2 linked regions of the Homo sapiens genome follow. The main gene of each other region encodes a partner of the protein of the gene in region 2 in a complex. Each region holds a gene or a part of one and is shown on either strand. Other genes may lie near its edges. The genes, in order: USP46 and WDR48. A codon is read from its position in the direction of its gene.

Region 1 (3,910 bases), on a different chromosome or scaffold from region 2:
TCTGTCACTCTCTAGACATGGCGTCTAAATACAACATCAGACTCCTTACTTAATGAATTACTGGTTCCTCACTTCATCTGGGTGATGGTCCTAAATTTGGTACCTTTTTAGGTCTCCACCTGAGATGTCAACTCTCAGGGCAGTATTGGCCTGCTCCTCTCAGGTCCTCCCCACACCCTGTCTCCCTGACTGAGTTTCACTGAAACACGTTGTGACATTCAGCCCAGGTGTGCCAGAAAGCCCCCGCAGCACTGAGGGTGGGTGGGGGGACGCGTGGGGGGAGGTTGGGGGCTGGCTTCCTCTAGGGGCATGCTAGCTCTCAAGTTTCCAGCCTGCTTCTACACAGAGAGGTGTAACCACACACAAGCAGGACAAGAACACCACCAAGGGCTGGGTCGGAGCCTCACTACCCTGTAGTATCCTTAGGCCTGCGGCCACACCAACAGACATAAAAGAGTATTCAAGCTGCTCCCGATTCACAGTTCCCTCAGGAACTGGTCGTAGGAGAGAAACTGAGAAGGCATCACCTCTTCACAAGCAGCCCCTCCACAGGAATAAGAGGAAATCTGACTCCTCGCAGAGAAAGGAAAAAAAGAGAAAACAGAAAGGCTCTAGGATCCACTCCCCGTATGGAACTCGCCCGGCACCAACCAGTACCTGTGCAGCTATCACTCTGGGAGGCCCCAGCATTTGCTTTGCTGGCCGTGACAGTGGCACGTCCCATTGTGCTGAAAGCTGAAGCCAGCGGGTCTCAATTCCACCCCTGAGCTAACACAAGGCTTCTTAATGCTCCTTTGCCATGTGTTGATCTTGCAACAGAATGTGGGACAGAAGATTTAAAAAGCTATGTGATGGGGGAAGGGCAGCCAGATCACCTTACACCAGGGCTTCTCCATCAAGCTTCCTTGGATTCCCTTTAGGGGCCAGTATTACTAGCTTCAAGGGAGGTTTTCCTCAAACTGGCACTGTAAGAGCACGTGTTGCCTCCGGGGACCCGCTTGGGAGGGGGCTAGAGGGGAGGCGGGGTGCAGTCTAAAGAATGTAGGCAAAACACACATCATCTCACCCTGCAAGGGACAGCAATGCCTTACTCCAATCTGAGCTCCCCAAAGGCTCTGACAAGTGGAGGCGCCAGCAGGGTCCAGCCTGGGGACCCAAGGGCTGGAGGTTCTTCCTACAGAAAAAGGGAAAGCAATGGGGGAAACCCAAATTAAAGTGACCACCGCATCATGGGCTCGGACTGCATCAGAACCCAGTGATGTCCCTGGCTGTATCCATGCCCGCCAGCCTCCCCTAGGTCTACAGCGGATCAGGCAGGATAACCCTGGAGACCTCCTCCAAGCCCACAGCCCGCCCCACCCTTAGGGCCTGCAAATATTACCGCCACAGAGCCTTGTCCCTTTTTCACAGATGGGGAAACTGAGGCATGCGGAGCAAATTACGGTGCTTTTTCAAACCAGGTTGAAGTTCACTTCTCCAGCCACAATTTTGCACTTTTTTTACAGCTTTATTACATTTCCGATTTCTCCAGATACACAATTGCTATTGCAAAGTGAATTTTAAACACCTCGGAAGGACTGAACTCAAAATGAGATGAGGGCAGTCTGGACGTCCAATAAGGCTGTCTTGACCGCAAGAAGAGGATGGGTGCCCCCCACCTCCAGCTTATCCCCCACCCCCTCCCCGGGGACGTTCAGGTTCGGTCGCTTCCCTTCCCTCAAGCCGCTTCCACCGCAACCCGAGGGCGGGGGGCGCAGCAGCGCGGCCCCGGGATCGCCGGGCGGGTTCCGAGGTCCCGGGGCTGAGACGGGCGCCGGGGGCTCGGGGACCCTCCCCGGCCGCTGAGGTGGCTGCGGCCGCGCGCCCAGCTCGGGGGCCGGGAACTTCTGGCGGCGCGGACCCCGCCGCCCCCGCCGCCCCAGCCACCGGGCGTGTGTGCAGCTCGGGCTTCCCTTTCTTTGCCTCGCCGCGAGTCGGGCGCGACCCCGAGGCGGCTCGGCCACTCACCATATTACAGATGGAGGCGATGTTTCGGACAGTCATTAGTCTAAAGGTTGCAGCGATCCCTCACCGCCATCTTTACAAGGGGAAACCGGGACTGCCCATGGTGGCGCGCTGGCGGGGAGGCCGGGCGGCAGCGCGGCGGCCTGGGGTCCGGCTTTCAGTTTGGCTGGGAGAGGGAGGCCGGGAGGAGGAGGCGGCGGCGCGGGGAGGGCGGGGAGGGAGCGCGGAGGGGCGGGGAGTGGCGGAGCGAGGGAGCCTGGGCCGCGGCCGGCGGCGCGGGGAGGAGGGGCGGCCCGGGCGCGCCGCGTGAGTCCGAGCCGGCCGCTCAGAGCGCTCCAGGCTGGGTTCCCGGGCCCCGCCGCGCCGCCTCCTTCCCAGCTCGCCCGCCCAGGCCTGGCCTCCTGCTTTTCCATTTGATTCCCTGCCTCTTTCTATTCGGACTGGAATGCCGGGCCAGGCTCCGGGGCGCGCCGCTGCGGCAGCCGCACCTCGCAGGTCCCCCGGCCGACCCCGACGCGGAAGCGGCGGCCCTCCTCGCCGTCGGGGAGCCAGGGAGCCGGGGACGGTACGGTGCGCGGGGTGGGGAAGCGGGCGGCCCAGGCCGGGGCGAACCCGGGGCCGCCTTCCGTCCTCGCTTTTTCCTCGTCGCCTTCCTCCTGGCGGGCCTCGGCAGCCCCCGGTGTTTATTTTTTGGCGAGGGGTAGGGGTGGCGACGTCCAACTTTTAGTTCCTCCCGAGGGTTCCAACCAGATGGCACCGGCGGGGACCCAAGAAGTAAAATGGGGCGAGGACACCGGAGCGGTCAGAGAGCCCTCGCCAGCTGCGGGCCGGGCGCCCGAGAAAGGGCGCCGGGAAGGGGGAGGAATCCGGGTCTGGGCGGAGGCCAGCAGCGGCGCGCTCGGGCGGCTTGTGACATTAGCGGGTCCAAAGGAGACGTCCCGGTTCCGCGCAAGCACTAGGGACTGTCCAAGGAGTGGAAAGAACGAAAACAAAACTTTTCCATATCTTCAAGGCAGGCATACCCCTCTCGGGTGCACCCAGCCTCTAGTTGTTGAGATGGGCGCTGTATGGGATCATGCACATTTCCCGCATTAAAGGTCGTGGCTGCGGGCTCAGAGCGCGAGTCTGTGCACCACTTAGCAGATAGGTCCACGCGAATTGAAGGGGCCCGTTTCTGAATGTGTGGAACAGTTACACATACAAGGTTGCAATTCGATGCTTTCAAAGGAGAAATTGTACAAGTGAGATGCGTGATAAATTCTTAGATCAGTGTATTTAATGACAAATTGAATCAGAAGAAAAATTAGTTGAAGATAGCTTTTATCTAACCAAGAGTAAAGATTTGAGAGCCGTTGATTGCTAATATCCCTAGAATCTGGGGAGGAAACAGTAAGACAGACTTGTTGACTGAAGGTTTTGGGAGTCATGTCACTGTGTTTTCCAGTGGACATGAGAAATAATATTCCTGCTTAAGTCTTTCAACCTAAATATTATTTCCAAATACATCCTGATGATAATTTCTTCCATTGTAAGTCATGACTGATTTTCTTCTCTCTCTCTCTGTTTTTTAAGAGACAGGTTCTCGCTATGTTGCCCAGCCTGAGGCTGGGCAGCCCCGAGTCATCCCAAACTCCTGGGCTCCAGCAATCATCCCACCTTGGCCTCCCAAAGCGCTGGGACAACAGGCGTGAACCACTGCACCCAATGTTTACATTCCTGATCTCCTTTAATCGCCACCATAACTATCAGCTGGTACATGCTATTATCTCCTTTTTTGCAGATCAGTCACATAAGGCTTAGAGGATCAAGGATCCTGCCCAGATGACTTACCGAAATGTTACAGATTAAGTTGGTGTGGTAACCTGGGCTGAGCACTCTGGGAGAGGAAGAGAAGAGAGAAGACAGG
Region 2 (3,910 bases):
CATGCACAGTTAAAGAACTGGGCTGGAGAAAAAGGCTCAGCAGTCATCAGCTTGTGGGTTACAGTTTGATGTCATAGGAAATGTCAGAGTTTCCAAGGGACATATGTAGACTGAGAAGAAACTAAGTCATCAGTCTTTCAGGGATGTTGGGAAAAGAGGAAGCCACAATAGTATATGATTTTAAAAAGTTGCGGGGGAGTAAGAAAATGAAGAGCCAGTGGCAGCTCCAGAACTAATTGAGTGTTTCAAGAAGAAGCTTGCGGTTAGTGGCATTAACCTGCTGTGAGTTGATTTAAGATGTGACTAACATCATGGATTTAAATAAAGAGGGTGGCCTCTGGGTAGAGTCTTAAGGGCAAAAGCCAGGTAGAGTGAGTTGAGTAGTGATTTGAAGGTGAAGAAACAGAAAATTTGACTGGATAATCTTTGAAGAAATTTGATTGGAGGGGTAGGCAGGAAGCGGCGGAAACTAGAGAAGATGTAGGAGTCAGAGGGCCAAAGGAAGCTTTTGATTTTGTTTGGTTTTGTTTGGATATTTGGGTATTTTTCAGATGTAAGAAATTTGAGCATATTTCATTGCTCCTGGGAAGAAGCCAGTAGAGACATTCATGGGTAGATGACAATACAAGGTCATCCCAAGAAGCAAGAGGTGAGGGGGACCGGAGCACAGTCAGAAGGGACACCGTTTTCCTTGCACCAGGGAGAATGATAGAGAAAGTTAAGGGGATTCTGTCAAGGCTTCTCTTTGTTTTGAGAAAAAGGAATCAGAGTCATGTGCTGAGGATAATGGGGAAGGTGGCAAGGTCAGAGGTAGAAGAGAGATTTAGTTGAGATGGACTGCAAGACAGTGACCCCAGGGCTCAAGTCTCCAGTAAATGAGGGAGAGTGGCAGGTTGCTAGATGGCAGTGAAGGAAAGGTGTACCGTTTACTGTTGCTAAATGACATAGGCCTCAGAGAAATAAGTTTTTACATGGGAGATGGTAGAGTAATGGTCTCCATGGAGCATCAAGGAACAATGGGATGTGGGAAAATAAGCAGTCCCCCTTTGAGAAGATGGCCGACAACTGGGACCCTCGAAAGAGCCACGTTGCTGTTAAGATGAGGTGGTATATTATATCAATATCAGCACAATTAAATACAGTTTCTTCCCAAATACTATTTTGTGCTTTTTTAATTTAAATTTTTTATAGCAGCAGATTGTTATTTTAAAAAAGGACCACATTCTTTTTGAAATGTATTTTAGACTGTTTCACTTAGACACATGTGAAAATATGTAAAATTTTGAATAGCAAAGTCAGAATCAAGTGAATTCACCACTTAATATTGATCATTATACTTTCTTTTGATGTATAGGCATGTAAAGTTGAAGATCTGGGCAAAGTGGATTTTGAAGATGAAATTAAGAAAAGATTTAAAATGGTGTATGTGCCAAATTGGTTCTCAGTAGACTTAAAAACAGGGGTAAGTTAGCAATTGATACTTGTATGATTTGGGATAATTGAAGATTTTCATTATAGCTTATAATTATTATTAGTTACAGAGTCCTGTGTTTTTAGGTGTGAAAAAAAAAATTTGTGTTAAAACTTAAAATGCAAAATGGAATAAAAAAGAAAAAAACAAAATTAAAAATATATTAAAAAAGAAAAAAATTTAAAAGTTACAAAATGCCTTTGGTATCCCAGGAAACTAAATTGTGTTGTTGCATTGAATCACACAAAACACATTTTGGTTCCTGAATTTATGACTTAGCACTTTAGTCAAATAGTACAAATAAATGAAGGTTTAGAGACTTGTTTGGAGAATATATTCAAATGGGATGCCACTAAGTTTTTTCTTTTGATAGATGTTAACTATTACTTTGGATGAAAGTGATTGTTTTGCTGCCTGGGTTTCTGCAAAAGATGCTGGTTTCAGCAGCCCTGATGGGTCAGATCCAAAATGTGAGTTTAAGTGTCCTTCATTTTTTTCCTCCCTTCTAAAGAGAAGATGAATATGAGCTGTTTTTTGCTAAGTACTTATCTTTGTAAAAGTTCTCTATATTTTGTTGACTATGTCCTAAAAATGTGGTATGTACAAATACCTAATGTATACAAATCATTTTAGTAATTTCATATGGAAATAGCCGTTTAAAGAATCTGATTCTCGGCCAGGCGCAGTGGCTCACACCTGTAATCTCAGCACTTTGGGAGGCCGAGGCGGGTGGATCACGAGGTCAGGGGATCGAGACCATCCTGGCTAACACGGTGAAACCCCGTCTCTACTAAAAATACAAAAAATTAGCCGGGCGTGGTGGCGGGTGCCTGTAGTCCCAGCTATTCGGGAGGCTGAGGCAGGAGAATGGCGTGAACCCGGGAGGCGGAGCTTGCAGTGAGCCGAGATTGCACCACTGCGCTCCAGCCTGGGTGACAGAGCGAGACTCTATCTCAAAAAAAAAAAAAATCTGATTCTCATGTTTGTTTTTAAATAATAGCTGTATCTGAACAACCAAGTAGAATATGTCTTTGCTCCATAGCATCATTGCTTTAAACATTCTAAGATAAAATTTTAGCAGAATTGGCAAAATGACTAAAGTCTTTATTTTAGACATCATTCGCATTGGGTTAAGAATGTAACATCAGAATATGTACAAACTTACAATTTTTATTCTATTTTTAGGTTAAAGCCAAGTAACTCGCTTTTCCATTTTATCTCTTTTTAATTAACTTTTTTGCAGTGAATTTAGGAGGACTTTTACTCCAAGCACTCCTGGAATATTGGCCTAGAACACATGTGAATCCAATGGATGAAGAGGAAAATGAAGTAAACCATGGTTAGTTTTTATATTCAGATAGTTGCATAAAAAGTTAGAGGTACTTACTTAAAAGGTACTTACTAAAAGGTACTTACTTAAACCGTTAGCTAAAATATTTGTGGTGTACTCAGTTTATTGTCCTCTCTTCCATATCTCAAAGTAGGAACATCCATCCAGTCTTAACTGAGACTGAGATTCCAAAAGAGCAGACCACCTTATGATATGGCTTTTAGTGAGACTGCTCAAGATAAATAAAATACTCTATATTCAGATGACTTTTGTCTTAAAATGAGGCACCTTAACAGACTTATTTCCAAAATATTCTTCAAGGTACCTCTGATCTTTTGGATTAACCTCCAAAGCTAGGTAGTTAGCTGCATCAGAAAGCCAGGTTTGTCATTGCATAGTCACTCTTCATGTTGGGCTGAAATGTTGGTATTTCCTAGTCTCATGGCCTACCTGATTTTGACTCTGTTTCAAAAAAAAATTCAAATTCCAACTCAGAAGTGACAGGGCATATGCTCAAGCATGTGTAAAGAATTAATGTCACTGAGGACATCTGAAACGTGTGTGTGCCATAGGCAGTGGCAGTAACGTTCCCTGAGCAGCAGAGGAGAACATGTTTTGAATATATGCATTTGGCTCAGTTTGATCAAAGGAAGGGGAAACAAGAACTTAGAATTTCACATCCTCATGTGTAACCTACAGCTGGTTGAGGAATCATTGAGTCCCATCGACTGAGGCTTACTCTGCTGAAGATTCTCTGCTGGCCACCAGGAGTGAGCAACAATGGCGAGTACCTCCTGCCAGGGACTTTGTTCTGGCTGTCAGATTCACCCATAATGATATGTGGAATTTAAATCTCTCACATGAGGATGACATGCTTCCTTGAAAACCAGTCTTCTGATGTTCCTGTCAGAGAGAGGGTGCTGTTGCCCCACCCATGGTGGCTTTTCTTTTACATCACCTGACACACTTTGATCCCTGTCAGAATTGTACAGTGGACTTTGAGCTAAAGAAACTGATGGAAAAATCTTTCCACAGAGGGTCAAGAAAGCTAGGTTCTGGGGTGGGCTCTGCTGCTTAACAGCTATGTTGCTGTGGGCAAATCATTTCCA

The links.
Region 1: the proteins of WDR48 (region 2) and USP46 are in contact, whole or in part, in a crystal structure (PDB 6JLQ), measured with the Homo sapiens proteins. Residues at the interface, in NP_065890.1 of Homo sapiens: Arg50, Trp77, Asp118, Tyr119, Lys121, Leu137, Arg139, Ser170, Tyr172, Thr188, Asp211, Asn212, Lys214, Ser230, Gly254, Trp256, Arg272, Ile364, Leu424 (codon at 1,451), Lys425 (codon at 1,454), Gly521; in NP_073743.2 of Homo sapiens: Arg181, Leu183, Asn184, Cys185, Glu186, Thr187, Cys222, Ser223, Glu224, Lys226, Cys232, Cys233, Ser234, Lys235, Gln236, Glu237, Gln239.

Annotation. Positions count from the first base shown.
Region 1 is NC_000004.12:52,657,108-52,661,017, forward strand, and holds the start of USP46 (ubiquitin carboxyl-terminal hydrolase 46), read right to left. Parts: upstream 2,195-3,910; 5' UTR 2,044-2,194; coding exon 2,008-2,043; intron 1,175-2,007; exon of another isoform or gene 1,067-1,174; intron 1-1,066. UniProt on the Homo sapiens protein: Deubiquitinating enzyme that plays a role in behavior, possibly by regulating GABA action. May act by mediating the deubiquitination of GAD1/GAD67.
Region 2 is NC_000003.12:39,082,801-39,086,710, forward strand, and holds part of WDR48 (WD repeat-containing protein 48), read left to right. Parts: intron 1-1,354; coding exon 1,355-1,462; intron 1,463-1,844; coding exon 1,845-1,941; intron 1,942-2,714; coding exon 2,715-2,810; intron 2,811-3,500; exon of another isoform or gene 3,501-3,584; intron 3,585-3,910. UniProt on the Homo sapiens protein: Regulator of deubiquitinating complexes, which acts as a strong activator of USP1, USP12 and USP46. Enhances the USP1-mediated deubiquitination of FANCD2; USP1 being almost inactive by itself.